Regions from separate parts of the Homo sapiens genome. Here all the other regions are linked to region 1. Evidence: fine-mapped expression QTL. A gene starts in region 1. Each other region holds a variant in brackets. All regions are shown on one strand. Distances are between the middles of the regions. Region 1 holds the start of TUBGCP2 (tubulin gamma complex component 2). Region 2 overlaps ZNF511-PRAP1 (ZNF511-PRAP1 readthrough). Region 3 overlaps MTG1 (mitochondrial ribosome associated GTPase 1). Region 4 overlaps ADAM8 (ADAM metallopeptidase domain 8). Region 5 overlaps ECHS1 (enoyl-CoA hydratase, short chain 1). Region 6 overlaps ZNF511-PRAP1 (ZNF511-PRAP1 readthrough).

What was found. PIP is the estimated chance that this variant, and not a neighbour inherited with it, causes the effect.
Region 2: its variant is fine-mapped to the expression of TUBGCP2 in whole blood (TOPMed, PIP 0.97).
Region 3: its variant is fine-mapped to the expression of TUBGCP2 in whole blood (TOPMed, PIP 0.96).
Region 4: its variant is fine-mapped to the expression of TUBGCP2 in whole blood (TOPMed, PIP above 0.99).
Region 5: its variant is fine-mapped to the expression of TUBGCP2 in whole blood (TOPMed, PIP 0.93).
Region 6: its variant is fine-mapped to the expression of TUBGCP2 in whole blood (INTERVAL, PIP 0.98).

The regions. Positions count from the first base shown.
Region 1 is chr10:133,306,595-133,311,394 of GRCh38, forward strand. It overlaps TUBGCP2 (tubulin gamma complex component 2), which reads right to left and starts at 2,278. Exons shown (of 18, transcript NM_006659.4): 1 at 2,229-2,278. It overlaps ZNF511-PRAP1 (ZNF511-PRAP1 readthrough), which reads left to right and starts at 2,320. Exons shown (of 9, transcript NM_001396060.1): 1 at 2,320-2,502; 2 at 2,796-2,869; 3 at 3,182-3,383; 4 at 3,570-3,694. The coding sequence starts at 2,350. ZNF511 (zinc finger protein 511) reads left to right here and starts at 2,320. Exons shown (of 6, transcript NM_145806.4): 1 at 2,320-2,502; 2 at 2,796-2,869; 3 at 3,182-3,383; 4 at 3,570-3,694. The coding sequence starts at 2,350. RefSeq lists enhancers at 1,455-1,684, 2,408-3,103, 2,511-2,805 and a silencer at 1,915-2,764.
Region 2 is chr10:133,329,994-133,334,793 of GRCh38, forward strand. All of the region lies in intron 5 of ZNF511-PRAP1 (ZNF511-PRAP1 readthrough), which reads left to right. The region is part of intron 1 of CALY (calcyon neuron specific vesicular protein); the gene reads right to left. Among named protein-coding and RNA genes, the nearest start is that of CALY, 4.5 kb to the right of the region's middle. RefSeq lists an enhancer at 153-232. The variant C/T (reference allele first, on the strand shown) is at 2,743.
Region 3 is chr10:133,402,971-133,407,406 of GRCh38, forward strand. The region is part of intron 9 of MTG1 (mitochondrial ribosome associated GTPase 1); the gene reads left to right. Among named protein-coding and RNA genes, the nearest start is that of MTG1, 11 kb to the left of the region's middle. The variant A/G (reference allele first, on the strand shown) is at 2,718.
Region 4 is chr10:133,260,119-133,264,918 of GRCh38, forward strand. It overlaps ADAM8 (ADAM metallopeptidase domain 8), which reads right to left. Exons shown (of 23, transcript NM_001109.5): 22 at 3,570-3,647; 23 at 2,305-3,115. The coding sequence ends at 3,038. Among named protein-coding and RNA genes, the nearest start is that of ADAM8, 14 kb to the right of the region's middle. RefSeq lists a silencer at 1,560-1,889 and an enhancer at 2,206-3,182. The variant C/A (reference allele first, on the strand shown) is at 2,901.
Region 5 is chr10:133,361,775-133,366,574 of GRCh38, forward strand. It overlaps ECHS1 (enoyl-CoA hydratase, short chain 1), which reads right to left. Exons shown (of 8, transcript NM_004092.4): 6 at 4,202-4,321; 7 at 2,884-2,951; 8 at 711-1,159. The coding sequence ends at 1,094. Among named protein-coding and RNA genes, the nearest start is that of FUOM, 6.2 kb to the left of the region's middle. The variant C/T (reference allele first, on the strand shown) is at 2,534.
Region 6 is chr10:133,340,315-133,345,114 of GRCh38, forward strand. All of the region lies in intron 5 of ZNF511-PRAP1 (ZNF511-PRAP1 readthrough), which reads left to right. It also overlaps the pseudogene BANF1P2. Among named protein-coding and RNA genes, the nearest start is that of PRAP1, 4.7 kb to the right of the region's middle. The variant A/G (reference allele first, on the strand shown) is at 2,218.

The DNA.
Region 1 (4,800 bases):
GGCTAACATGGTGAAACCCCATCTCTACTAAAAATACAAAAAAATTAGCCGGGGGTGGTGGCGGGCGCTTGTAGTCGCAGATACTCCAGAGGCTGGGGCAGGAGAATGGCATGAACCCGAGAGGCGGAGCTTGCAGTGAGCCAAGATCACACCACTGCATTCCAGCCTGGGCAACAGAGCGAGACTCTGTCTCAAAAAATAATAATAAAAAAAATAAAAACTACCTTCAGGAAACTTCGTATCTCTTCTAGAAATAGAAGCACAGATGCCCGCACGTCATGAGTGTTCATCCCATGAGGAGCCTGCTGCTCTCCCTGAATGTGGGGACCGGGCCTCCAAGAGGGCAGCCCGTACTCGCACAGAGTCCCTCCCCCCAGAAGACCTTTGGAAAAGTCCTAGGGCAACTCTGGGGTGTCACGGTCATGGAAGGGTGCTCTCGCTACTTAGAGGGCAAGGGCGGGGGATGCTAATCATCAACAGAGCTGTCCCGCCAGAAATGCACAGCGTCCCACTGAAAACACAGCTCTGAGGAACATCTAGCCGTGGCTGCTTCTTGGAGGAACGTCTAGCCATGGCCGCTGACTTGGCCTTCTTGATGCTCCTGAATTCTTACTATTAATCACACAAACTGACAGGCCCAGCAACTGTGACTGGGAGGGACTGACGTCCTCCTCACAGAGGCTGTGAGCTACCGCAGGGACGCGTGCTGAGGGAAGCAATGCACGCATGTCACACTCCACCACGGACAAGCGGGGCACACACTCCTAGTGAGCACACACTCCAAGTGATTAAAACACAGAGGGACGTGAAAAAGAGTCTCTGTTGAGAGCTCAAAGCTAACTGTACAAATTGGTTTGAAAAATGTTATTTTACAACTTGTGGAAAATGTCAAGAGCCCAAAGGCTTTTACAGAGACAGAAAGTACAGTCATGCATCACTCAACATTCTGAGAAATGCCTGGCCAACATGGTGAAAACCAGTCTCTACCAAAAATACAAAAATTGGCCAAGCCTGGTGGCGCACACTTGTAATCCCAGCTACTTGGGAAGCTGAGGCACGAGAATCGCTTGAACCCAGCAGGCAGAGGTTGCAGTGAGCCCAGATCGCGCCACTGCACTCCAGCCTGAGCGACAGAGAGAGACACTATCTCCAAAAGAAAAAAAGAGAAACGTATGGTTACATGATTTCCTTCTGTGCGATCATCAGAGTCACTCGCAGACCTGGATGGTGTACGGCCTACAATGCACCTAAACCACCTAGAGGAGCCTCTTGCTCGTGGGCTACAAACCTGCCCAGCAGGTGGCGGTGCTGAACACTAGACAACTGTAACACAGAGATATTTGTGTATCTAAACATGGAAAAAGTACAGGGGCAGGCATGGTGGCTCACGCCTGCAGTTACAGCTCTTTGGAACGCTGAGGCAGCAGGACCACTTGAGCCCAAGAATTTGAGGCCGCAGCGATCTATCAGCTATGATCGCACCATTGCACTCCAGCCTGGGTGACAGACGAGAAAGCTAAAGCCTCTATCCGCCACTGGGCCCATTCTCTGCAGTAGATCTGAAGCGTCCACTGCTTCCCGCGTGTGTTGTCATTCACCATTTTAATTAGGTGACTCTTTACTCTGACGTCTGTCTCTCCTACAAGGCTGCCGCGCCCTCCTGTGATGCCTTCCCCCACACGCCCTGAGCACCTAGCACAGGTCCTGTGTTTCACGGGAGCTGCGGGGACTGGAGAGGTCGACAGGACCCCGACAAACCAGGAAAGGGCCTTTGAACTAAAGTAACGGGAAGTCACCCAAGGGCTTTAAATTAAAAACGGTTACAATAAAACTGGAGTCACTTTGGCTCCAGTTCGCGACTGGTTTAGAGGGAACAAGATCCAGGGACTGCAGCGGGAGACGACAGGCGGGGCAAGGCGGACGGGAGAGGGCGTGCGAGAGGGGGACCTGCGACCCGGCTTCCCAGGGCTGGGAGGGGACACCCGGGACGACCCGGAGGCCCGCTCCGCCCCGCCCCGGCTGAGTGTCGGGCCGCGGGGCAAGACGCTGGCCTGGCCGGTGCAGGCCCGAAGGGCTTCGGCCCCAGAGTTCGGGGACCGCTGCACAGCCAGAGGGAGCGCGCGGGAAGAGCCGCGTCCCGCCAGCCCCGTCGCCTCGTGGGCCCCCCCGGGCCTGGCAGTCCCCCAACCCCCTCATCACGCCCGCGCCCGCGTTCGGCCAGGACTCACCGCAGTCCCGGAGCCACAGCCCCCGCGCAGCCCCCGACGGCGGCGGAAGTGAGCGTGACGTCACGTCCGGCTCGGCTCGCGGACGGTGGCCGACAGGCTGCGCCCGCCCGCGCCCGGGGTGATGCAGTTGCCCCCCGCGCTGTGCGCCCGCCTCGCTGCGGGGCCCGGGGCGGCGGAGCCGCTGCCTGTAGAGCGGGATCCCGCGGCTGGGGCCGCGCCCTTTCGCTTCGTTGCGCGCCCCGTGCGCTTCCCGCGGGAGCACCAGTTCTTCGAGGTGCGTGAGCAAAAGAGGGAAAAAGTAGTTGTAGGATCCAGTGGGGCCTACGGCGGCGAGGCGGGGCCGGAGCCTGGAGTGGGAGGGGCCTACGACTGCGGGGCGGGGCCGGAGCCTGGGACAGGCGGGACCTGAGGTGGTGGGGCGGGGCCGGAACGTGGAGTGGGCGGGGCCTGAGGCTGTGGGGCGGGACCGGAGCGCGGGATGACTGGGGCCACGGGTGTGGGCGAGGCCTGACGCGGTGGGCGTGCCGCGAGTCACCTGGCCCCGCCCACGGCGCACTTTTCCTGCAGGATGGGGACGTGCAGCGCCACCTCTACCTCCAGGACGTGATCATGCAGGTGGCCGACGTGCCTGAGAAGCCCAGGTAAGCGAATGGGCAGTGCCTAGCCAGTGCTACTCCTGCGCCGCCTCCCTGACCGGTGCCTGGTCCCTGGGGCTGTGCTGCCGCTCTTCCATGTGCGGCCGCCCCACCGAGGCGCTGTGCCTGTCCAGCTTTGGCGTGGCCGACTCTTCCACCACCTAGCCTGTTTGTGAAACTTAATTCATAAAAAGAGGGTTTGGGATTGCAAAAGATGCATAGGGGCTTTATTGGACGTCTCAAAGGGAAACTGTGCAGAAAGTCCAGCTTGGTTCCTCGCACCGGAGGAAGGGCTCCTGAAGCACGTCTCCTTGGCAGGGTGCCCGCGTTTGCCTGCCAGGTGGCCGGCTGCTGCCAGGTGTTCGATGCCCTGGACGACTACGAGCACCACTACCACACGCTGCACGGAAATGTTTGCTCCTTTTGCAAGCGGGCCTTCCCTTCCGGACACCTGCTGGACGCCCACATCCTGGAGTGGCACGATTCGCTCTTCCAGATCCTGTCTGAGAGGCAGGACATGGTGGGTGACAACTGCACAGCCGCCGAGGCCACCCCCCATTGGTGATGGGCTCAGAGTGCTGCCCCCAGCTCTCGGGTGCTCGGGCAAGGCCGGGGACACCTTTCCGCCCTTGGCAGCTCTGCTACGGGGGCATGGCGGTGGGGGAGGGCCAGGGGTCAGAGGGAGGTGACACGGTCTCCATTTCAGTATCAGTGCTTGGTAGAAGGCTGCACAGAGAAGTTCAAGACCAGCAGAGACCGGAAGGATCACATGGTGAGGATGCACCTGTACCCCGCGGACTTCCGGTTTGATAAGCCAAAGAAAAGCAGAAGGTAGGGAGCCGCCAGGCTCAGCACGTGTCTGCTTTTGATTTTAGGAAAAGGTTTCCAACTAGCCGGAATGCATAGACGGTCAGACTTATTAAGCACTTGTGTGTCACCTAATGGGGTGTTCACCTGCAGGTACCTGAAGCCCTGGCAACACAGCTACAGGTGGTTGTGCCAGCGGCCACCCTGCCGAAGGGAGGCTGGAGGGGAGCCCCTGGCTGCCCAGCTCTGTGCCGGTGGAGGCAGCAGAGGGGGTGTGGGAATGAGCGGGCGCAGCGCCTCCGCACTCACACCCCTCTGGGCCATGCCTGTACCTCCTGCAGCAGTCGGCCGTGGTCATCCGCACTCACACCCCTCGGGGCCGTGTCTGTACCTCCTGCAGCCGTCGGCCGTGCTCACACATCATGCAGCCCTGGCTTTCCTTTTGTCCTGGTTGGTTGTGCGCATATGAACTTGATGACAAAGCTGTTGATTAACATGTTCCTGCCTAGAGTGCACTCTGGGAAATACTTCCAGGAACAATCTTTTTTTTTTTTTGAGACAGGGTCTTGCTCTGACACCCAGGCTGGAGTGTAGTGGTGTGATGTAGGTTCACTGCAACCTCCACTTCTCAGGCTCAAGCGATTCTCCCACTTCAGCCTCCTAAAGTGCTAGGACTACCAACACGCATCGCCGCACTCGGCAAAATTTTCTATTTTTTGTAGAGACAGGGTCTTGCTATGTTGCCCAGTCTGGTCGTGAACTCCTGGGCTCAAGCCGTCCATCTGCCTCAGCCTCCCAAAGTGCTGAGATTGTAGGTATGAGCTACCATGTCCAGCCGGAACAATTTTTAAATTGTGTTATATTTCTTCTTTTTTTAACTGATGAGGTGAACTTTCATAATCATCTACAATTTTATTGATCAGAGTTTTTCAGACTCTACATTTTCTCAAGTAGTAATTTGCTCTTTAAAATAAAAGAACTGGGAGAACCCACTGCAATGTGGGAGGCTTTACAAAGACTTACGTGTAAAGTAATTGTCTCCTTTCCGAGGGATCATTTTAAGGAGAAAAACCGTGCAATGCTGGATTAAGACATTCGTATTATGGAAGAGACTAGTTTATAGTCTCTGG
Region 2 (4,800 bases), 23 kb after region 1:
CACAGCAGGGCCCCGCGGGGCTGGGAGAGGGCGGGCCCCACTAACCCAGAGAAGCCGAGGGTGCCCGGCTTCGCCTTCAGGCGGACCTTCTAGAGAAAAGGAATGCAGCGGATGACCTCCGAGCTGATGGATGGAAAAAGCAGAAAAAGAAAATGTATTCAATCAATCAAAGGAGAAAAGAAAGGTCCTGTGTGCAGTAGACACGGAACCTGTGGCCCGGTGCTATGGCGGCGCCTGTGGTCCCAGCCACTCGGGAGGCTGAGGCGGGAGAATCGCTTGAACCCGGGAGGCGGAGGTTGCAATGAGCCGAGATCACGCCACTGCACTCCAGCCTAGGTGACAGAACGAAACTCTGCCAAAAAAAAAAAAAAAAAAAAAAAAAGGCAGGGCGCGGTGGCTCACGCCTGTAATCCCAGCACTTTGGGAGGCCGAGGCGGGCGGGTCACGAGGTCAGGAGATCGAGACCATTCTGGCTAACACGGTGAAACCCCGTCTCTACTAAAAAATACAAAAAATTAGCCGGGCGCGGTGGCGGGCGCCTGTAGTCCCAGCTACTTGGGAGGCTGAGGCAGGAGAATGGCGTGAACCTGGGAGGCGGAGCTTGCAGTGAGCCGAGATCGCGCCACCGCACTCCAGCCTGGGTGACAGAGAGAGACTCCGTCTCAAAAAAAAAAAAAAAAGGAATCTGTCATTACAACCTTCTCTCACAAAGAACTCCAGGCGCAGACAGCATCACCACAGCATTCTACCAACCATTTACAGGGAAAGTAATGCACGTCCACAAAACTCTTCCAGAAAGACAAGGGAGCACTCACCAGCTCCTGAGGCCAACGTAGCCTCAGTCCCTAACCCAGCAAGGACAGCAGCGGAGAGGAGCTCACAGGCCAGCCCCCGCCACACGTACACACCACTGCGAGGCCCCAAAGCTCAAGCAGCGTGAATCCAGCGAATACAACAAGGTAACATATCATGACAGTTTGGGTGTATTCTGGAAATGAAGTTTGGCTTAACATTTGACAAGCAATCATATTTTTCACCATATTAACAGAATAATGAAAAAGCGTTATCTGATCAATTGCTAGAGGAGCAGAAGTAACTCTGGGTAAGACTCAGGGCTCATTTACTATTCCTCGGACCCATTAGTGCATTAAGGCAGGAGGCGAGTGCTGTAACCCGGTAACAGTGAACCACTAAATCCCCACAGCAAACCTCACTGAATGTGAATCCTGAAAGTGCCTCGATCTGCGGTTCTACAAGTTATGGTGCTGGAGGTCTCAGCCAATGCTGTAGGGCAGGACAAAGAAAGAGCTCCAGTGCCAGACAAGAAAAAGTAAAACTCTGATTGATTCACCCATGAAACAGTGTCTGTGTTTAGAAACCCCAAAAGAATATATAGACAAATCATAAGGATCAAAAAGTGAGTTTGGCAAGGTTGTTGGATTTAAGGTATTCAGAAATCAGTTACATTCCTATATGTCAGTGGCAAAAATAAATAAATAAATAATTTATTGAAGTACTCAATTTAAATAATATCAAAACTATCAAATCCTCAGGAATAGGTGTAAAAAGAGCTGAGGAGCAGGGACAGGGCAGGGCCTTCACATGGAATCCAGGAAACACTGTCGACAGAGACCAAGAAAAGCTAAATTCCCCAAGTAAATGGGGAAGGCTGTGGCTATGGATTTTGGGAGTTTCTATGTTTAAACAAATTACCCACCCCCCAATCTGTAGATGCAGTAAATCTTAAGCAAAATCCCAACAGGGTTTTTAAAATGAACTTGACAAGCACTGTCATTTTATATGGAAGGCAGAGGGGCAGGAACACATCAAGTATCTTGGAAAAGAACATGGATTGCCAGGCACAGTGGCTCACGCCTGTAGTCCCAACACTTTGGGAGGCAGAAGTGGGTGGATCACAAGATCAGGAGTTTGAGACCAGCCTGGCCAACATGGTGAAACCCTGTCTCGACTAAAAATACAAAAACTAGCCGGGCATGGTGGTACACGCCTATAATCCCAGAATCTCGGGAGGCTGAGGCAGGAGAATCCCTTGAACCTGGGAGGCAGAGGTTGCAGCGAGCTGAGATTGCACTACCACACTCCAGCCTGGGCAACAAGAGCAAAACTCCGTCTGGGAAAAAAAAAAAAAAGAACATGGAGGAGGTCTCATCTGCCAGGGTCTAGCTTGTTGCACAGCATTGGAAATGGAGAGGTGTGGGGCTACTGCGTGGTGGAAAAAGTCCCACGTGACACACTTTGCACACACAGACCCTGATTTGCAGCATGGCTGCCTCTCAGTAAACCGCTGTCCACATCAAGAGCAATGAGCCTGATCCCTACCTCACATTACACAGAGAAGTCTACTCCAGGTGGATAAACCTAAACTGGAAAAGCAAAACAATAAAGCATCTCAAAGATAATACAGAAGAAGATTTTTCTGGTCTCAGGGAGGGAAATGTTTCTTCATTAGGACAATAGGTACTAACCATAAAAGGAAATATTGATAAAATGACTTCATTAAAACTATGAACTTCTGCTTATCAAAACAGCCTTCAAAAAATGGAAGCAGAAACCAAGACTGGGAGAAGACAGTTGCAACCCACAAATGATGAGGGTGCATTGTGGGTTGAATGATGTTCCCTCAAAAATACATCCAAGTCCTAGGATCTGAGTGAGGGGTGCCTTTGAATGGGATCTTATTTGAAAATAGGGTCTTTGCAGATGTAATCAAGCTAAAATAAA[C/T]TCGTCCTGAATCAGCGTGGGCCTTGACCCAAAACTGGTATCGTTATTAAAACAGGGAAATTAGACATAGGAGAGTGTTATGTGTAGACGGAGCAGAGATTGGAACGATGCAGCTGAAACCCAAGGATTGCTTGGGCCACCAGAAGCTGGAGGAAGCAAGGAAAAAGCTCCCCTAGAGGCTTTGGAGGGAGCATGGCCCCGTGAACACCTTCATTTTGGACTTCTTGACTCCAGAACTGTGAAAGAATTTGTTATTTTAAGCCACCTGCTTGTAATTTGTGACAGCAGCGCGAGGATGTCCAATTAACTGCCAGAGCCAGCAGTGACCAGTCTTTCTCGCCCTGCAGTGGCCAGGCTCCGCTGTGGGTTCCAGGTGTGGGTAGGCACCACGGGAACAGGAGCAAGGGACCCGCGGTCACAGAGCTTCTGCCCAGCTGCTGCCACTCAAGTACAGATAATGTGGAGGCATCTGCGTGGAGGAGAATCTAAGGGTGGAAGGAGCTGAGGGTGGAATGATTGCAAGGTGGAAGGATCCGAGGGAGAAGGATTGAGGGGGTGGGGGGGGGGGAAGGATCCGAGGGGTGAGGGATCCAAGGACAGAGGGACCCAACGGGGAAGGATTGCGCGGGTGGGGGTGGGGTGGAGGGGAGGGATCCGAGCGGAGGGGTCCGAGGGTGGAACGATCTGAAGGGAAGGGACCCCAACGGGGTGCGGGGAGGGATCCGAAGGGGTAAGGATATGACGCGGGGGGAAGGATCCGACGCAGGGGGAGGGATCCGAGGGTGGAAGGATCTGAGGGGGGAAGAATCCGACTTGGGGAACGATCCAAGTGGGGTAGGATCCCAGGTGGGAAGGGTCGGAGAGCGGAGGTATCTGAGAGGGAGGGCTCTGAGGGGGAAAGATCTGAGAGTGGAAGGCTCTGAGGCGGAAAGATCTGAGAGTGGAAGGCTCTGAGGGGGAAAGAAAGATCTGAGAGTGGAAGGCTCTGAGGGGGAAAGATCTGAGAGTGGAAGGCTCTGAGGGGGGAAGGATCTGAGGGGGGAAGGCTCTGAGGGGGGAAGGATCTGAGGGGGGAAGGCTCTGAGGGGGGAAGGATCTGAGGGGGGAAGGCTCTGAGGGGGGAAGGATCTGAGGGGGGAAGGCTCTGAGGGGGGAAGGCTCTGAAGGGGAAGCTCTGAGGGGGGAAGGATCTGAGCGGGGAAGGCTCTGAGGGGGGAAGGCTCTGAAGGGGAGGCTCTGAGGGGGGAAGGACATGAGGGGGAAGGATCTGAAAGGCGAAGGATCTGAGGGGGGAAGGATCTGAGCGGGGAAGGCTCTGAGGGGGGAAGGCTCTGAGGGGGGAAGGACATGAGGGGGAAGGATCTGAGGGGCGAAGGATCTGAGGGGGGAAGGCTCTGAGGGGGGAAGGCTCTGAAGGGGAAGCTCTGAGGGGGGAAGGACATGAGGGGGAAGGATCTGAAAGGCGAAGGATCTGAGGGGGGAAGGATCTGAGCGGGGAAGGCTCTGAGGGGGGAAGGCTCTGAGGGGGGAAGGACATGAGGGGGAAGGATCTGAAAGGCGAAGGATCTGAGGGGGGAAGGATCTGAGCGGGGAAGGCTCTGAGGGGGGAAGGCTCTGAGGGGGGAAGGCTCTGAGGGGGGAAGGACATGAGGGGGAAGGATCTGAAAGGCGAAGGATCTGAGGGGGGAAGGATCTGAGCGGGGAAGGCTCTGAGGGGGGAAGACTCTGAAGGGGAGGCTCTGAAGGGGAAGGACATGAGGGGAAGGATCTGAGGGGCGAAGGATCTGAGCGGGGAAGGCTCTGAGGGGGGAAGGCTCTGAGGGGGAGGCTCTGAGGGGGAAGGACATGAGGGAGAAGGATCTGAGGGGCGAAGGATCTGAAGGGGGAAGGATCAGGGGAGGAAGGATTTGGAGGTGGCAGCTTCTGCGTGGGGAAAGAACTGAGGGGGAAGGATCTGCGTGGGCGAGAGTGCGGCCGGTGAACGAGGGCTGGGTAGGGGATGGGGGAGGCCACTCTGAGCCGGAAGGAGCTAGGCGAGGGGAGACAGGGCCCCCAGTC
Region 3 (4,436 bases), 96 kb after region 1:
GAGCGTTCCCGTCACCCCCAGTCCCTGCTCCTCTTTCGTGAAATCAAGGAAACGAGCGTTCCCGTCACCCCCCATCCCTGCTCCTCCTTCGTGAAATCAAGGAAACGAGCGTTCCCGTCACCCCCAGTCCCTGCTCCTCCTTCGTGAAATCAAGGAAACGAGCGTTCCCGTCACCCCCAGTCCCTGCTCCTCCTTCGTGAAATCAAGGAAACGAGCGTTCCCGTCACCCCCAGTCCCTGCTCCTCCTTCGTGAAATCAAGGAAACGAGCGTTCCCGTCACCCCCAGTCCCTGCTCCTCCTTCGTGAAATCAAGGAAACGAGCGTTCCCGTCACCCCCAGTCCCTGCTCCTCCTTCGTGAAATCAAGGAAATGAGCGTTCCCGTCACCCCCAGTCCCTGCTCCTCCTTCGTGAAATCAAGGAAATGAGCGTTCCCGTCACCCCCAGTCCCTGTGCTCCTTCGTGATCACACCTTCCTGCCCCTCCCTGAGCCCAGGCAGCCGTCTACTGTCCCTGTAGGTTGCTTTGGGTTTTCTAGAATTCCACGTAGATGGAATCACACAGGATGTGCATTCTTGTTGATCTGTCACTCGGCACGATTGTTGTGTGATCCCCGTGTGTCGTCGTGTGTTGTCCGTCATTCATCCTTTTTGTTGCCAGGCGGTTTCAGTGTCCAGGTGCGCTGCAGTCTGTCCCTTCACCCGTTGATGGATATGTGGGTTGTTTGCAGGTTTTGGCTATTGCAGATAAAGCTGCTGTGAACATTCATGTACCGACAGGTCTTTGTGTAGATCCGGGCTTTCGTTTCCCTTGGGTTAATACCTAGGAGTAGAGTGGCTGGATCATAGGGGAGGCATATGTTTGAGTTTTTAAGAAACCGCCACATTGTTTTCCAAGGTAGTTACACTGTTTTATATGCTGGCAAGCAGGGAATGAGTCCTTCAGTTTCTCTAAGATCAGTCTTTAACTTTGGCCTGTCTGATGGGCGGGCGTGTAGGGGTGTCGCATAGCATTTCAATTTGCATTTCCCTGATGACAGGGACGTTGAGCATCTTCATGTGCTTATTTGTCATCCCTCTCTGGGGAAATGTCTGTTCAAATCCTTTTCCCTTTTTTTTTTTTTAACTGAGTTGTTTCTTTCCTTATTGCTAAGTTTTAATCTTTTTTTTTTTTTTTTTTTTGAGACAGGGTCTCAGTTACCCAGGCTGAAGTGCAGTGGTACAGTCTCAGCTCACTGCAGCCTGACCTCCTGGGCTCAAGCGATCCTCCCACTTCAGCCTCCCAAGTAGCTGAGACTACAGGCGTGTGCCACCACACATAGCTGATTTTTGTATTTTTTGTAGAGACAGGGTTTCCCCATGTTGCCCAGGCTGGTCTTGAACTCCTGGGCTCAAGGGATCTGCCCGCCTCAGCCTCCCAAAGCATTAGGATTATAGGCATGAGGCACCATGCCCAGCCTGTAACCTTTTTCTAATATATTCTGGATACAAGTCCTTAATCAGAGATACGGTTTGTAAATACTTTAAGTCTGTGCCTTGTCTTTTCAGCCCTCTTAACAGTGTTTTCCGAGGAGTAGAATTGTTAATTTTCATGCAGTCCAGTTTATCAGCTAGATCTTTTCCAGAGTACTCTTGTTGTCATATCTAAGAAATCTTTGCTTAAACCAGGGTCACAAGGGTTTCCTCATTGAAGATAGATGGTTTTAGGTTTTACATTTAGGGCTATGATCCTTTCTGATTTTTTGGTATATGGTACAAGCTGCAGATTGAAGTTCTTTTTTTTTTGCACATGGAGAACCAGTTGTTCCGGAAACATTTGTTGCAAAGACTGTCTTTTCTCCACTGAATTGTCTTTGCATCTTTGTCGCAAATCGGTTGTCCATATACGTGGGTCTGTTTGTGGACTCTAACTGTGTCACTTTTCTGTGTGACCGACCGTCTTGGTAACTGCTTCTAATTTAATATGAGATTTGAAATCAGGCAGTGCTGGTAGCCCCCACTCTTCTTTGTCAAAATTGCTTTGTCTTTTCCTGGTTCTTTGTATTCTCATGCATTTTTCAGTCACTTTGTCAGTTTCTACAAAAATCCCTATGTTTCTTGAGGCCGGGTGGCAGATTCCCCTGAATTTATAGGTCAGTCTGGGGAAGAATTGACAATATTGTAACACTGAGTCTCTGACCCGTGAATATAGTGTATCTCTTCATTTATTTAGGTCTTTAGTTTTTCTTTGCAGTGTTTTGTAGTTTACAGTGTTTTGTAAGATTTATATTGAACTCTTTTTTAAACTTTTAATGCTAAGATTTATCTTTTGATACAAAGTAGATGTTTTCAGGGTACCTATGATATTTTGATGCATTCATACAATGTGTAATGATCAGATCAGGGTAATTGGGATATCCATCATCCCAAACATTTATCTTCATGCTGGAAACATTTGAATTGCTCTCTTCTGGTATTTGAAATATCCTGTAGATTCCTGTTAACTGAAGTCACTCTACCGAACTATTCATTAATCAACCTCTGTCCATCCCCTCTTCCCCTCACCTCTGGTAATCACCAGTCTGCTCTCTGTCTTAATGAAGTCCACGTTTTTAGCTCCCACATTTGAGTTAGAACATGCATTATTTGTCTTTCTGTGCCTGTTTATTTCACTTAACAGAATGATCTCCAGTTCTGTTTGTATTACTGCAAATGACAAGATTTCGTCCTTTGTTATGGCT[A/G]ATATTTCATTGTGTTTTATGTACCACATTTTCTGTATCCATCATCCTTTGATGGACACTTAGGTAGATTGCATATCTTGGCTATTGTGAGTAGTGCTGCCGTGAGCATGGGAGTGCAGTATTTCTTCAGTATATTGATTTCCATTCTTTTGGGTCTATACCCAGTAGTGGGATTGCTGGATCCTATGGCAGTTCTATTTGTAGTGTTTTGAAGAACCTCCATACTGTTTTCCATAGTAGCTGTACTAACTTACATTCCCACCAACAGTGTACGACAGCTCCCCTTTCTCTACATCCTCAACAGCATCTGCTATTCTCTGTGTTTTTTAATAAAAGCCATTTTAACTAGGGTGAGATGAAATCTCATTGTGGTTTTGATTTGCATTTCTCTGGTGATTAGTCATGTTGAGCATTTTTTCATACACTTGTTGGCCATTTGTATGTCTTCTTTTGAGAAATAATTATTCAGATCTTCTGTCCATTTTTAAATAGTTATGTGGTTTTTTTTGCTGTTGAGTTGAATTGCTTATATAATCTGGTTATTAATTCCTTGTTGAGTAGTTTGCAGATATTTTCTCCTATTCTGTAGATTATCTTGTCAGTGCTTTGATAGTTTCGTTTCTTGCTTCGGGTCTTGCCGTGCCGTCCAGGCTGAGTGCAGTGGTGCGATCACAGCTCACTGCAGCCTCGAACTCTTGGGCTCAAGAGATCCTCCTGCCTCAGCCTCCCAAGTAGCTGGGATTATAGGCACGTACCACCATGCCTGGCTTGCTGATTGTTTCCTTTGCTGTGCAGAAGCTTTTCAGCTTGATGTAAATTTTTTTACATTTGCCTATTATTATTATTATTATTTTTGCTTTTGTTGCCTGTGCTTTTGAGGTCTTATACAAAAAAAATCTGGCCCAGACCAATTTCCAGAAGCGTTTCCCTTACGTTTTCTTCTAGCAGTTTTGAAGTTTCAGGTCTTAGATTTAAGTCTTTTTTTTTTTTTTTTTTGAGAAGGAGTCTCACTGTGTCACCCAGGCTGGAGTGCAGTGGCACGATCTCGGCTCGCTGCAACCCCTGCTTCCTGGGTTCAAGCAGTTCTCTGCCTCAGCCTCCCAAGTAGCTGGGACTACAGGTGCCCGCCACCATACCTGGCTAAGTTTTGTATTTTTAGTAGAGATGGGGTTTCACCATCTTGGCCAGGCTGGTCTTGAACTCCTGACCTCGTGATCCACCTGCCTTGGCCTGTAATAGCCACCGCACCCGGCCAGATTTAAGTCTTTAATCCCTTTTGATTTGGTTTTGTATATTGTGAGAGATGGGGTCTAGTTTCATTCTGCCTGTGGTTATCCAGTTTAACCAGCACCCTTTTATGGGAGAGACTGTCCTTTCCCCAGTGTATGTTCTTGGCACTTTTGTCGAAAATGAGTTGGCTGTAAATGTGTGGATGTATTTCTGGGTTCTCTGGTCTGTTCCACTGTTCTGTGTATGTGTTTTATGCCAGTAGCGTGCTGTTTTTGGTTACTACGAATATTTTGAAGTCAGGTAGTGTGATGCCTCTAGCTTTGTTCTTTTTGCTTCAGGTTTGCTTTGGCTGTTTGGGGCCTTTAGTGGTGCCATACAAATTTTAGGATTGTTTTTCTATTTCTTTGCAGAGTGTCATTGCTATTTTGATAACGATTGCATTAAATCTGTAAATTGCTTTGGGTGGTGACATTTTAACAGTATTCTTCT
Region 4 (4,800 bases), 46 kb before region 1:
GCCAGGTGTGCACCTGCAGAGCCAGGCATGGGTCCACAGAGCCTGTCAAGCCTGGTTTACACCACAGAGCTGGGTATGCGCTGAGAACCAGGTGTGCACGGAGAGCCAGGTGTACACTGCAGAGCCGCGTGTGCACTGAGAGCAGGTGTGCGCTGAGAACCAGGTGTGCAGAGAGAGCCAGGTGTGCACGGAGAATCAGGTCTGCAGAGAGAGCCAGGTGTGCACTGAGAACCAGGTGTGCACGGAGAATCAGGTCTGCAGAGAGAGCCAGGTGTGCACTGAGAACCAAGTGTGCAGAGTCAGGTGTGCGCTGCAGAGCCGGGTGTGCACTGAGAACCAGGTGTGCAGAGAGAGTCAGGTGTGCGCTGCAGAGCCGGGTGTGCACTGAGAACCAGGTGTGCAGAGAGAGTCAGGTGTGCGCTGCAGAGCCGGGTGTGCACTGAGTCAGGTGTGCAGAGAGTCAGGTGTACACTGCAGAGCCGCGTGTGCACTGAGAGCAGGTGTGCATGGAGAGCCAGGTGTCTGTTGAGAACCAGGTGTGTGCAGAGAGCCAGGTGTGCACTGCATATCTAAGTGCTCATGTGGAGTCTTGGGCTGGGCAGGTGCTGCCCAGGACCCTGGCTCTCTGGCTGTCTTCTGTGCATTTGGGGATGGGAGAAGGGGCTCGGCTCTGGCTGGAGGGCAGCCAGGCAGACTTGCCAGCCAGCACCGCCAGGTGATAAGAGCTGGTGCCCACAGGTACTCAGCAAATGTCTGCATTTTGGGGAGGGCTGGAGAAAATGAAGGCCATGCCCTCTCTGCAAGGCTCCGCACAGGCCCTGTTTCCCAGTCCTTCAGCCACAGGGTGTCCCGGCAACAAGGGTGCCAGGTCGCCTGCACCCTGACTGTCTCCTGCGGAAAGGACAGCGCCTGCTCCTTGTCCTCCAGTAGCTGCTGGACTCCGGGGTCTGGGTGCTCTGGCGCCCGGCGGCTGGGTCCCCACTACAAGGTAGACACCAGCCTTGAATCCAACTGTCGAGGAAATGGGGTGGGCGGCGGAGGCTGGGGAGATCGGGAGGAAGGGAGGTATGGGCTTGAGAGACAGGAACCCACCCTCTGCAAGTGCAGTGGCCTGTCCCCTCCAGAACGCTCTCATTCTTCGTGCTGAAGGGAGCTGGGGGCGTGGCAGGCCTGCGAGACGAATGGGCGCTATCAGCTCAGGGCTCTGCCTCGGAGGAGCCACCCGGAGGCAGCACCCATGGGTGTGGGGGCTTGGCCACAGGGGACGTCAGGCCTCCTCGGTGCAGCACCAGATGCGTCTAACAGCCTCCGCCCCGTGGGCGCCCACTCAGACTTGCTGCTCAGGTGCCTAGAGCAGAAGCCACCTCCTCAGAGGCCAGCGCGCCAGCCTGGCACCACGGGGACGCTCCCAGGGGGTGCCCAGAGGGAACGTGCGCATCGGGCGGGGTACTGCGGCGCGTGTGGGCCGTGAGCCCCGCCCTGTAGTCGGACACTGGAGTCCCGGATCCTACAGATCTGAAAGGCTGAGTCGGATGCAGCAAAGGCGAAGCGGGGTTCGCAGCCCCAGACTCTTGGGCGGGGGGGTCAGCGAGCAACCGGGAGGGGCGCCGCGGGCCATTCGCCGCTTCTCCTGGGCCGAGGGCGCAGGCCCCTGCCGCGGGGGCCCCTCGGACTCCACGACTTCGCGGACGCGCGCCCACCGCCATAGCTGAGGTCCCGGGCCAGGCGGCGCGTGGGTGGCTGAGCGGGAGCGCGTCCAGCCAGGCGTGGAGGCCGCGCGGGGCCGGGGTCGAGCCCAGCATGGCGGGGGGGGTGCGGGGCAGTGGCCCGGACAAGGGCATGGGGCCGGAAGAGGCGGGGCCGTTGCCAGGAGACGAGACGGAATGGGCGGGGCGCGGGCGGGGGCCGTTGCCGGGAGACGAGACGGAATGGGCGGGGCGCGGGCGGGGCCGTTGCCGGGAGACGAGACGGAATGGGCGGGGCGCGGGCGGGGCCGTTGCCGGGAGACGGGGCGGGGGCGGGGCCGGGCCATTGCCCGGAGACGGGGCGGGGCAGGGGTAGCGCGGGCTCCTCCGTGCATCGCGGCGAAGTCTTCTTGGGCGTGGGTTCCTGGATCGGATCGTCTGCCCGCGGGAGGGGCGGGACTGCTTAGTTACGCTGGGGAGGGCCTGAGAAATCCAGGGAGAAAAGAAGGTGGCTTGACCTCATCTATTCGCAGTCTGCATTTTACCAAGCGCCGACCCTTGTATCTCGTGAACTGAAGCCCTCCATCCTTCCCCGCTGATCTAACAAGAATCTACAGAACTCGGTCAATAATTTATTAGTAAAATATACATTTCTCATTATTAAAGAATAAAAGCTTTCAGCCCTGCTGAACACACATCTGAGGTCTCAAGAAAACCAGACAAGATAGCTGACTCTCCCACATAGCCCTTTCCATAAAGGCGATTCCTAAGCTTAAACACACACAAAGCTGGGGCTGTCCCTCTTGAATCCCATGGGAAACAGGCCCCAAGATCAGGGGACCTGGAGTCGGGAGCTTGGGGTGCAGTCTGCTCACTGACACCCTCTCGAAGAGCACGCAGGGGAACCTGGTCCTGGGATGGAGTCTTTCTGGGGATGCCCCACGTCTGTGCTGCCTGGAACCGGGTGCCCAGGGCAGCCGGCTCAGCAGGCCCCAGAGCAGGGGCAGGTGTGGCTGGGAGGGGCTGTATATGTGGCCTCCTGAACACAGCGGGAGACCAGCGGCCACCTGGAGACACGTACACACACACGCACCCGCAAGCACACAGCTCATCCCAGCCTGGTGCCTGCAGACAGCTGGGGCTACACGTGGCCAAGGCGGGGAGAAGGAATTGGCTGAGGGCGTGGACAGCAGGAGCCTCTCAGGTAGATGCATT[C/A]CTGAGGTTAGAACAGCAGCTGAGCCTGCAAAGTCAGGGTCTAGGGCTGAGCGGCACTAGCTGGACCGTGGAATGCTGGAACGCATGGCTTCTCTGCCGCAACTTCTCCAAATTTCCACACAGGCGCAGGTGCCCCCCTAGGGTGCTGTGGGAGCTCCGGCTCCTTGCTTCCTCTGGATGGGGGGCTTCAGGGCAACCTTTGGGCCAACAGCACCCTGGGAGGAGGAAAAGATAATTGATGTTGAAAAACTACCTGCTATAAAAGGTATATAAAGGGTACAACGAAATTTTACGTCCTTTAACATCTCTTAAAATGTGGATTCTTGGTTCATCCACCAACAACATGGCCCATGCACACAATGGCAGGTGTGGCAGTCACAATATATACAGCTCACAGAGGACAGACTTTCTTCCCTGCAGTTGCTGGGGGAAGGTCAGGCACCACTGACAGCCGGGGTCGGCATCTGCTGAGAAGTCCCCTGATCACAGCACAGATACCACAGTACAGCCACTGCCAATGCCTTTCCCTTTTCTTTCAGTCACCCAAGTTTATCCACAGATAATCAGAAAAAAACCCCACCCTCCAGGGCAGTGCCACCGTCAGCCCCGTGGGGAGGCCGTGCCGTCCATTGCACAGTGGACTCTGCCTGGTGTGTGCTGGGGCCTCACCTCAGCTGGACCAGGGTTGGCCGCACCAGCCCCGGGTTTGACTGGGGGCACTGGGGGTGCGAACGTTGGCTTGATGACCTGGGAGGAAACAGACACAGCTGACATGGGTCCCCCAGGCACTCCCGGCTCTAGCCTGGACATCACCTTCTCTGGACCTGGAACGAAGCTCCCCACAGACCTCGCTCTGCCCCCCAGGGAGCCTGCAGGCTCCGCCCCCACTGAGCTCGCTACAGAAAAGCCCTCCTGGCTGCCACTGCCCAGGAATAAAGCCCATCAGTGGCAGAACGCCATCCTGGGCCCACCTGCCCAGTACACCATCCACATCCCCTAACCAACCCCCATATTACCCTCCAAGAGCTTTTTTCCTTTCCTTTTTTTTTTTTTTTTTTTTTGAGTCAGGGTCTCCCTCTGTCACCCAGACTGGAGTGCAGTGGCGTGATGTTGGCTCACTGCAGCTTCCTCTTCCTGGGTTCAAGCGATCCTCCCGCCTCAGCCTCCTGAGTAGCTGGGACGACAGGCACAAGCCACCATACCCAGCTAATTTTTTATTTTTTGTAGAGACGGGGTCTCCCTATGTTGCCCAGGCTGGTCTTGAACTCCTGGGCTCAAGTGATCCTCCCGCCCCAGCCTCCCAAAGTGCTGGGATTACAGGCATGAGCCAATGCGCCTGGCCTGAAGAGCTCTACAGATTGCCGGAATGTGGGGTTTTGGAAGCTCAAAGGCCAATAATTAGCTACTAAAACACGTGTTTCTTTGCATTTCAGCTTTCCCAGGGTAGGGAGGCTGGATGTCCACCACACAGAGCTGTGGAGCTCACTCCTGGCTGTGTCACACGGAGCCTGGGTGGGCTAAGCATTTGCAGTTTTCAGCAGCTTCCAAAGGACCCTACTGAGCAGCCAGGGGAAGCCCGTGAGAGTGAAGAGTGAGTGACTTCCCTCCTGCACAGTTCTGCTGCAGCCTCTGCCCCATCTACTGCCACGCCTGTTCCTGCTGCAGCCTCAGCCCCATCTACTGCCACGCCTGTTCCTGCTGCAGCCTCTGCCCCATCTACCTCCACGCCCGGCTCTTGCTGCAGCCTCTGCCGCATCTACCTCCATGCCTGGTTCCTGCTGCAGCCTCTGCCCCACCTACCTCCACGCCCGGCTCCTGCTGCAGCCTCTGCCCCATCTACCTCCACGCCTGTTCCTGCTGCAGCCTCTGCCCCATCTACCTCCATGCCCAGCTCCTGCTG
Region 5 (4,800 bases), 55 kb after region 1:
CTGGAGGGAAGCAGAAAAGGGGTTGTTGTTTAACGGGGACAGTTTCCGTTTGGGAAAATGAAAGCTTTCTTGGATAGTCATGGCTGCACAACGAGAACGTACTTAATGCCGCTGAAATGTGCATTTGAAATGGTTCAGACCAGCCTGGGCAACACGGGGAAACCCCGTCTCTACAAAAGGTAAATTTAAACAGTCAGCTGGGTGTGGGAGTGCGCCCCTGTGGTCCCAGCTACTTGGGAGGGGGGGAGGATCACTTGAGCCCAGGAGATTCAAGCTGCAGTGAGCTGTGACTGAGCCACGCACTCCAGCCCGTCTCTAAAACACAGTGGTTAAGATGATCAAGTTGACGTCGTGTGTTCCCACAGTAGAGAAGAATGCAGTAAACTGAACAGAGAGCTCCTTATGACAGAAGTAGGAAGAAAATAGGGTGGGCTCTCGTGAGGAAAGGGCTCGACGTGAGTGGGCGTGGAAGAAAACCATAGACCATGCCTGTGCCCGTGTGCAGGGGTGTGTGGGTGCGTGCACAGAACTCTAGGAAGTCACAAGCCCAGCTGTTCACAGTGGCTACCCTGGAAGTATGATGTGAGGCAACTGACTATACAAACTTGTTTTGTTTGAATGTTGTTCCTTACAGTGAAAAAACAAAAAAGTTTAAAAAAACAACTAACATGACAGAATGCTCATTGCAGACATGACTACAAGGCGTGGTGTAATCTGAATCGCTATCACTTTAATCAGCATCTGTATGAAGGCAGCAGACAGCGTTTCCCTCAGAGCAGCCCCATTCTTCAGCGGCAGGGACACAAGGACCCGCAGGCCCCGCTTTCCGTCCGAGCACAGCATGCCCAGAGGGACCAGCGGGGGCTCCTCAGCAGAATCTTAGATTTAGAAGGTGCTCCAGTCAGGACCCTCACAGGCTGGGTGACGAAGGCTGTCATGCCGTGAGAGGTCGGGCCACGACCACGCAGCAATTGGAGAGGAACTGCACACCACGGACACTGCTCTTGAAAAGAGGATGATTTACTTGCTTCTAAAACTGACAGGCTGCACTTGTCCTCTCCAAGCAGAGGTGTGAAGCAGGGGCAGCTGGTTCTCACTGGTCTTTGAAGTTGGCCTTTCTCTTTTCCACAAACGCGGTCATCCCTTCTTTCCGGTCATCCTGGCAGGAAAAGGAACAGAAACAGAGCTGGACGCGCAGTATCCTCACAGAGCCTGATGCCAATGTCCGCCCGTCTCTCCCTGGCTCTGCCTCACTCATGCTCACAGGGGCCCAGGGGGCCGGGGAGGGGACTCAGCGGCAGGAACACCTGCCCAATCAGAGCTGGGCCTGGGCGCGGGGATTTTCACGGCCTCTCTCTACCAGTCTAGGTGACGGTCATTCAGGAGCCACTGTGTATGTCCAACAAGCTCACATCTAAAGAGCCTCAGATGCACCCATCTTGGTCACTCACCATGTCATCAACTGGATGATGGGTGGCCTGTATCAGGGGCTACTCTGTGTTGGAGTAGGACGTGAGAACTCAACTCTGCATCTGCTTTTCTTACACTGTGTGCACGTGTGTCCCCAGGTGTGCGCGCGCGCACACACACACACACACACACACACACACGCATCTGTACCCCTTCCTCAGGTGCCCAAACCACTTTTAATTTTTATTTTATAGAACAATTAAAACACCGAAGTATGACTTTCTCCCAGTGAAAGACATGAATTAAAATGGTAATCTGGCCGGGTGCAGTGGCTCACGCCTATAATCCCAGCACTGTGGGAGGCCGAGGCAGGCAGATCACTTGAGGTCAGGAGTTCAAGACCAGCCTGGCCAACATGGTGAAACTCTGTCTCTACTAAAAATACAAAAATTAGCCAGGTGTGGTGGTGGGCACCTGTAATCCCAGCTACTCGGGAGGCTGAAGCAGGAGAATCACTTGAACCCAGGAGGTGGAGGTTGCAGTGAGCTGAGATCTCACCACTGCATTCCAGCCTGGACGACCGAGCAAGACTCTGCCTCAAAGGGAAGAAAATTAAAATTATGATGGTAATTAGAGGAATTACTTTAAGTTACTGGCAGAAATCTTATAAAATATTGCTCTAAAGCTTCAGCTTATCTTATTAGAATACATTTGAGCCTATTCCAAATAATTGGAATGATCTAAAAAAACATGGGTAAAATGAGTTACATTTTTTTTTTCAGACAGAGTCTCACTCTGTCTCCCAGGCTGGAGTGCAGTGGCGTGATCTCGGCTCACTGTAATCTCCGCCTCTGGGTTCAAGCGATTCTCCTGCCTCAACTTCCAGAGTAGCTGGGATTACAGGCACCTGCCACCACGCCCGGCTAATTTTTTGGATTTTTAGTAGAGACGGGTTTCGTCATGTTGCCCAGGCTGGTTTCAAACTCCTGAGCTCAGGCAATCCACCCGCCTCAGCCTCCCAAAGTGCTGGGATTACAGGGTGAGCCACCGCGCCCGGCCTCATTTTTTAAAAAAGTCTTTTTTTTGAGACGGGGTCTTGCTTTGCTGCCCAGTTGGACTCGAA[C/T]GACCCGCCTCAGCCTCCCAGGAAGCTGGGGCTACGGATGCTCGACACCCACCCGGCTGAAACTGCATTTTCAATAAAGGAGCTGCTTGAGGGTGCAATTCACAGACCTCACATAACAGGAAAAACAAGAAAAGCCCCTGTAAGGTTTCTGTACTTTTGAACTTGTACATGCTCTACTTTTTTCCTAACATCAAGACCCACTGATGGAACCAATCTGATCCCGTTAAAGGTGAGGCTGGCAGTTCTGACCAGAAAGAAACGATACTTAATGATAAAATTTAAAAGGAAATTCCCAGCAACTTGTGTGACTGGAATTTGCTTGATTCTCCGGTTGAACACTGTTTACTCACAGTGGCAAAGGTTGAATAAAAGAGTTTCTTCTCCAACTTACTTCCTTCTGTTAATGTCATTTCAAAAGCTGAAAAACAAAGTCCCAGAGTTATGAACGGAGATATTACATGCAGAACTTTTCCTGCACGGTGACAGGAAGCCCTCCTCACTGACCCATGCACAACTGTGCTTTCGACGTGGCCCAGCCCTGCACAGGCTTCCATGGTGCCGCCCTTCTCAAAGGCACTGCCCCAGCGGAGACCTGGCAGAACCAACAGCTCTGCTATGGCCCCCAAACGTCACACTCCGGTAGCCCACGGCCCCAAGAAGGGAGAGGAACTGGATGAAAGGTGAGATGGCAAACTGTGCCCTTGAGGAGAGGCTGTGAGGCGGCAACGGGGCTGCAAACAGAGAAAAATAACCAAGGATGAAAACCAGGAAGGACAGCACGAGAGCCAGAGCTGGGCGCGGCCGGCACCAAGAACGCCTTTGGCTCTGCTCATTCCAGGCCCGTTCTTTGCACGAGGCCAAGCAGAGCAGATCCAGGTGCGCAGATGGAGGCAGGCGCTGTGGCTCCAGGGCTGGTGCCAGCATCCTCTCCCAGGGGAGCACGACCTTGCCAAACACCTCGGGCGACAGCAGCCTCCGTTCTTTCAAAATGCTCTCCTCACTGTATCCTGCCTCAAGCCAACGGCAAGCCCGGGGGACGGCCACACCCTCGAGATAAATGCACTCAGAGAGGTTAGGGGACCTGCCTGGGGCCACCCACACCTGTCCGGACTCAACCAGCTAATAACCATCTCATTCCACATGCTGAGAATAAATTGTGACATTAAAACTTGAGCATTTCTGAGGAGGGGGAGGTTCAGATCCACTTCCCTGGCAGAGGGAGAACTAAAAGGGATCCAGGCCAAGAACGAACAGCGTGGTGCTGGGCTGCAAGCCTGCGTAGCCACCTGCCAGGCGCACACGCAGCCGCCAACCCCAGGTCTCGGGAGGTGAACCGAGCCTCCCCATGGCAGAGACCATTTTACATTTGGGACCTCTGCTCCCTTCTCAGCCTTTCCCTGCCACTGCCAGCTCTGTACTGCCCTCACCTCCCAGGCCTGGCTCAGTTCTTGGGCCCTGGTACAAAGGGGAGCTGGGAACATCTCAGCGGAGTTCCTGAGTGCGTGACCAGAAACCACGACTCTACAGACAGCAGAACTGAGACACTGAGAAGCATTTCTGCCCAGGAGGGCTTAAGGCATATTCATTTGGAGCCAGAAAGCCTGCTGCTGAGGAATGCTCCTGACAGCCACGGAGACCTCTCCAGTGTCTTCCTGGCAGATCCCCTACCTGCATTCACTGATTCTTTGGCCATCGCTACTACAATTTTAGAATTGCTGGCAATTTTTTCTGCACACTGGATGGCTTCTTCCACCAGTGTCTCAACAGGACAAATCTTGCTGACAAGACCTGAAACACAAGAAAGTCAGTGAGTGATGTGCAGAAACAGCACTTGTCTATCCCTTCTCGAGTGAGTGGCCGCTGGGGAGCAGCGTGGCTGGAGCACCCCAGCCTCTGGACGCTAAGCAAGGGCGGCTTCCACACGGGAAGTGCCGCACGTGCCCCTTCCTGAGTGCTGAGTGATCTCGGCACTGCGGTCACTGTGCTCTCAGACATGTGGGCCAGGCTGGCCACAGCTCCGACGGCAGAGGCGGCCAGACACGGGGACTGTGATCACCAACAGGGCAGTGGGAGGACCGGCCACTGAGGCCTGGAGATGCCCATTGCTTACACTGCATTTTGGGGACGCAATTGCTGGGCTGTTATTCTGTACCAGATACTTACGTGTGGTTCACTTCCGTACATACAGTACTTCAAAATGTAGAAACAAAAGGCAGTCAGTCTTCTCCCAGGTCCTCAGGACCCAAAAGCTCATGCAACCACCGTGG
Region 6 (4,800 bases), 34 kb after region 1:
GAAGGCGCTCCATAGGCATTTGCCTGAGTGCGGCTCCCAGCTGTGGGTGGTCAGCAATGACAGGAGCATGCGTTGGTGATGCCTTCGTTTTCATTGCTAAACCGTAACCCATTGTTCCCGCTGTTAACTCATGGACATGCCGCGTTTCATCCACGCTGAACGGTAACCCGTTGTTACTACTGTCTTTTTGTTTTGTTTTGTTTTGTTTTTTTGAGACGGAGTCTCGGTCTGTCGCCCAGGCTGGAGGGCAGTGGCGCAATCTTGGCTCACTGCAAGCCCTGCCTCCCGGGTTCGAGCCATTCTCCTGCCTCAGCCTCCCGAGTAGCTGGGACTACAGGCGCCCGCCACCAAGCCCGGCTAAATTATTTTTTGTATTTTTAGTAGAGACGGGGTTTCACCATGTTAGCCAGGATGGTCTCGATCTCCTGACCTCGTGATCCGCCTGCCTCGGCCTCCCAAAGTGCTGAGATTACAGGCGTGAGCCACTGCGCCCGACCTGTTTTGTTTTAGTTTAGTTTTGTTTTTTTAAGAGGAGTTTTGCTCTTGTTGCCCAGGCTGGAGGGCAATGGAACGTTCTCGGCTCACCGCAACCTCTGCCTCCGGGGTTCAAGCGATTCTCCTGCCTGAGCCTCCTGAGTAGCTGAGATTATAGGCGTGTGCCACCACGCCTAGCTAATTTTTGTATTTTTAGTAGAGACAGGGTTTCACCATATTGGCCAGGCTGGTCTCAAACTCCTGACCTCAGGTGATCCGCCTGCCTTGGCCTCCCAAAGTGCTGTGATTACAGGCGTGAGCCACCACGCCCGGCCATTATTGCTGTTAACCCATGGATTCTCCAGGTTTCATCCATTCATCCGTATGAACTGTTTCCAGTTTGTCAGCTGTTTATAATGTTGTGGTGAACATTCTTATCACAACCTTGGTGGACGTGTGCTTTTCTTTCTCTTGGGTAGTTACTGAAGAGTGGAATTGCCAAATTTGATGGAAAGTTGACATTTAACTTTGAAAGAAAATGCTAAAATGTGTTTTTCCAAAGTGGCCGTACCATGTGACATTCCCACCAGCAGTATAGGAGGGTTCCAGTTTCTCCACATCCTCACCACCTCTTGATTTTTTTTTTTTTTTGAGACAGTCTCCCTCTGGCCAGGCTGGAGTACAGTGGCACGATCTTGGCTCATTGCAACCTCCACCTCCCGGGTTCAAACGATTCTCCTGCCTCAGGCACCCAAGTAGCTGGGACTATAGGCTCATGCCACCACGCCTGGCTAATTTTTGTATTTTTAGTAAAGATGGGGTTTCACCATGTTGGCCAGGATGGTCTCAACCCGCCTCGGCCTCCTAAAGTGCTGGGATGACAGGCGTGAGCCACCGTGCCCAGCAACCAACTCTTGATCCTTGATTTTGTCTTTTTTATACTAGCCATCTGTCTTAGCTGAGGCTGCCATAACAAATTGCCAGAGACTGGGCAGCTTCAACAATGGAAATTCATGTTCTCACAGCGATGGAGGCTGACGTCTGAGACGGAGCTGTCGGCAGGGTTGGAGCTGTTGGCAGGGTTGGCTCCTCCTGAGGCTGCTCCCTGGGTTTGTGGGTGGCCACACCTCCCCGTGTCCTTACATGGTCTTCCCTTTGGCGTATCTGTGTGTTCTCATCTCTTCTTATAAGGACACCAGTCCTGTTGAATTAGGGTCCACCCTAATAACCTTGCTTTACCTTACTTACATCTTTAAAAACCCATCTCCAAATATCGTCATATTCTGAGGGGTTAGGACATCAATGTATGAATTTAGAGGGGACACAGCCCATAACACCGTCCTATAGGAGTGTAGCTGTGGCTTGAGTCCACGTCGCCCTAGTGACAAGTGGTGCTGAACATCTTCTCAGGGTGGAGTCACCATTTGTAAATCATCTATGGTGAAATGTCTGTGCAAATGTTTTGAATATTTTTCAGTTGGGTTGTTTGTCTTTTTATTGTTGAGTTGTAAGAGTTCTTTTTATATTCTGGGTATAAGTCCTTTTCTTTCTTTTTTTTAGTTTTATTATTATTTTTTTGAGATGGAGTCTCACTCTGTCAACCAGGCTGGAGTGCAGTGGTGCAGTCTCATCTCACTGCAACCTCCGCCTCCCGGGTTCAAGCGATTCTCCTGCCTCAGCCTCCCTAGTAGCTGGGACTATAGGCGCCTGCCACCACACCCAGCCAATTTTTGTATTCTTAGT[A/G]GAAACGGGGTTTCGCTATTTTGGCCAGGGTGGTCTCGAACTCCTGACCGCGAGTGATCCTCCCGCCTCGGCTTCCCAAAGCGCTGGAATTACAGGCGTGAGCCACTGCACCTGGCCCTTTATTTTTAATTTTTAAAAAGTTTTAATTATTATGGGTACATAATAGGTATATATATCCATGGGGTACACGGATGCCATATGTAATGATCAAACCAGGATAATTGGGGTATCCATAACCCCAAGATTGTATCATTTCTTTGTGCTAACATTCTAATTCCACTCTTTTTTGTTAATTTAAAATATACAACAGGCTAGTCACAGTGGCTCATGCCTGTGGTCCCAGCACTTTGGGAGGCCTGAGTGGGAGGATTGCTTGAGCCCAGGAGTTCGAGACGAGCCTGGGGACCTCGTCTCATTTTACTAAAGACTAGATGTTTTAGATAATATATTGCAAACATTTTGAGTTCTGATATTTTCTCCCAAGGGTTGTTGTTGCTGTTTTGTTGAAATCTGTGGACTTTGTTTCCCCTGTAGCACGTGGCCTGGTGTCTCCGCCCAGTTTTTTAAGCCTATCTTCCTTGAGTCACACTGGGTTGTGTGGTTGGAGGCTGTGCTCAGGCCGCGGGACCCACTCTGCTGGTGCCTCAAGGGTGGGCTGGGGGCCACGCTCTGTGTGGATGCAGTTTTTAAGGTGCCCGACCTTTACTTCCCACCGGCTGTCTCCCGTCTCCTGAGTGTGAATGCACAGACTTGTGTTGGGCCAGAGGAATGGGGAGGTCAGCTGGGACTGTGTGGGAACCTGGGGAGGCTCCCTGTGCCTTTCTCATTCCAGACCTGATCACCCCATTCAAGTTCGGGCTGGCCTGCCAATCACTGCTCATAATCCCCTTGGGGACCCCAGTTCCCTGAGCCACTGGCCTTCTGCTGCCTCCCCCGTGGAGCCACTCGGCCACTGAGGGGTGGGTGGGAGTGTAGCTGCCCAACAGGCTCATTCTGCTTGCTGCCCAGAGAGAGCCGATTTATCAGGGCAGAGAGAAACTGCAACACGGAAAGTTTAATTCACGCGGAGCCGGCTGAACGGGAGGCTGGAGCTTTATCACTACTCAAATTTTAAAGGATAATTTGGTGGGTAGGGGTTGGGAAGCAGGGAGTGCTGATCGGTTGGGTTGCAGATGAAATCACAGGGAGTCGAATCTGTCCTCTTGTGCTGAGTCACTTCCTGAGTGGGGGCCACAAGACCAGGTGAGCCAGTTCATGGATCTGGGTGGCACCAGCTGTTCCACCAAGTTCAGAGTCCGAAAAATGTCTCGAGCACCAATCTTAGGATTTACAATAGTGATGTTTTCCCTAAGAATAATTGGGGAGGCTTAGAATCTTGTGGCCTCCAGCTGCCTGACTCCTTTTTTTTTTTTTTTTTTTTTTTTTGAGACGGAGTCTCGCTCTGTCACCCAGGCTGGAGTGCAATGGCGTGATCTCTGCTCACTGCAAGCTCCGCCTCCCAGGTTCAGGCCATTCTCCTGCCTCAGCCTCCCGAATAGCTGGGACTACAGGCGCCTGCAACCACGTCCGGCTAATTTTTTGTATTTTTAGTAGAGACGGGGTTTCACCATGTTAGCCAGGATGGTCTTGATCTCCTGACCTCGTGATCCGCCTGCCTCGGCCTCCCAAAGTGCTGGGATTACAGGCGTGAGCCACCGCGCCCGGTCCTGCCTGACACCTAAAACATAATTTCTTTTTTATTTTTCATGAAAGCCACTGACTTTCTTGATCTAAAAAACTTTACAAGGACAGTGACTGTTCTGCCAAAAAAGGAGCCAAATAGTATCAAATGGACTGAAAGTGAGGGTGGAGGTGAGGGACGGGGCCAGGAATCCATTCAGGAAAGCTGGTAACTGTCACCAGGGAAAGTGAAAAAGGAAGGGGGAGACATGCAAGAGTGAGAGTCCAAAAAAGTTGAAATGGTTAGGGGAGAAAACTCCCAAAAGACCCAGAGTGCGTCAGACGTGAGTATGACAATAGCAATCTTCTCCTTTGTAGAGGACAGGGGAGGAGTCCCGACTCGGCTACAAACTCTGGGTGAGGGCTGGGGATTGAGAGCTTCCTGGAGAGCATCACAAGAAGGCATCGCATGCTCTCGAAGGCATCCGAAGTCCCGGGACTGCTTGGTGTTGGCACCACGAGTCCTTTGGCCATTCCCGGAACAGGTCTTCATCTTTCCTCAGCACCAGAAACTGGCCAAGGACAACATAGGCCTTGTCAAAGCCCCTTTCCTCCAGCTTCTTGCCCAGGACTTCACCAATCCTGGCCAGGCTCCCCACTAGCTTTTCCCCCATGGGCTCTGCCCTGAAGTCTCGGTGCTTTTGGGAGGTTGGCATCTTGATCAGGCTTAATCGGCAACTTCAGTTCCCGTAACGGTTCCTCCCGCCACCCGGCCGCTCCGGCCGATACCTCAAGCCACTAGAAGTTTCCTAAACCATAATTTCTAATCTTGTGACTAATTTGTTAGTTTTACAAAGGCAGTCTGGTCCCCAGGCAAGAAGGGGGTTTGTTCAGGAAGGGGCTGTTTTCATCTTTGTTTCAACA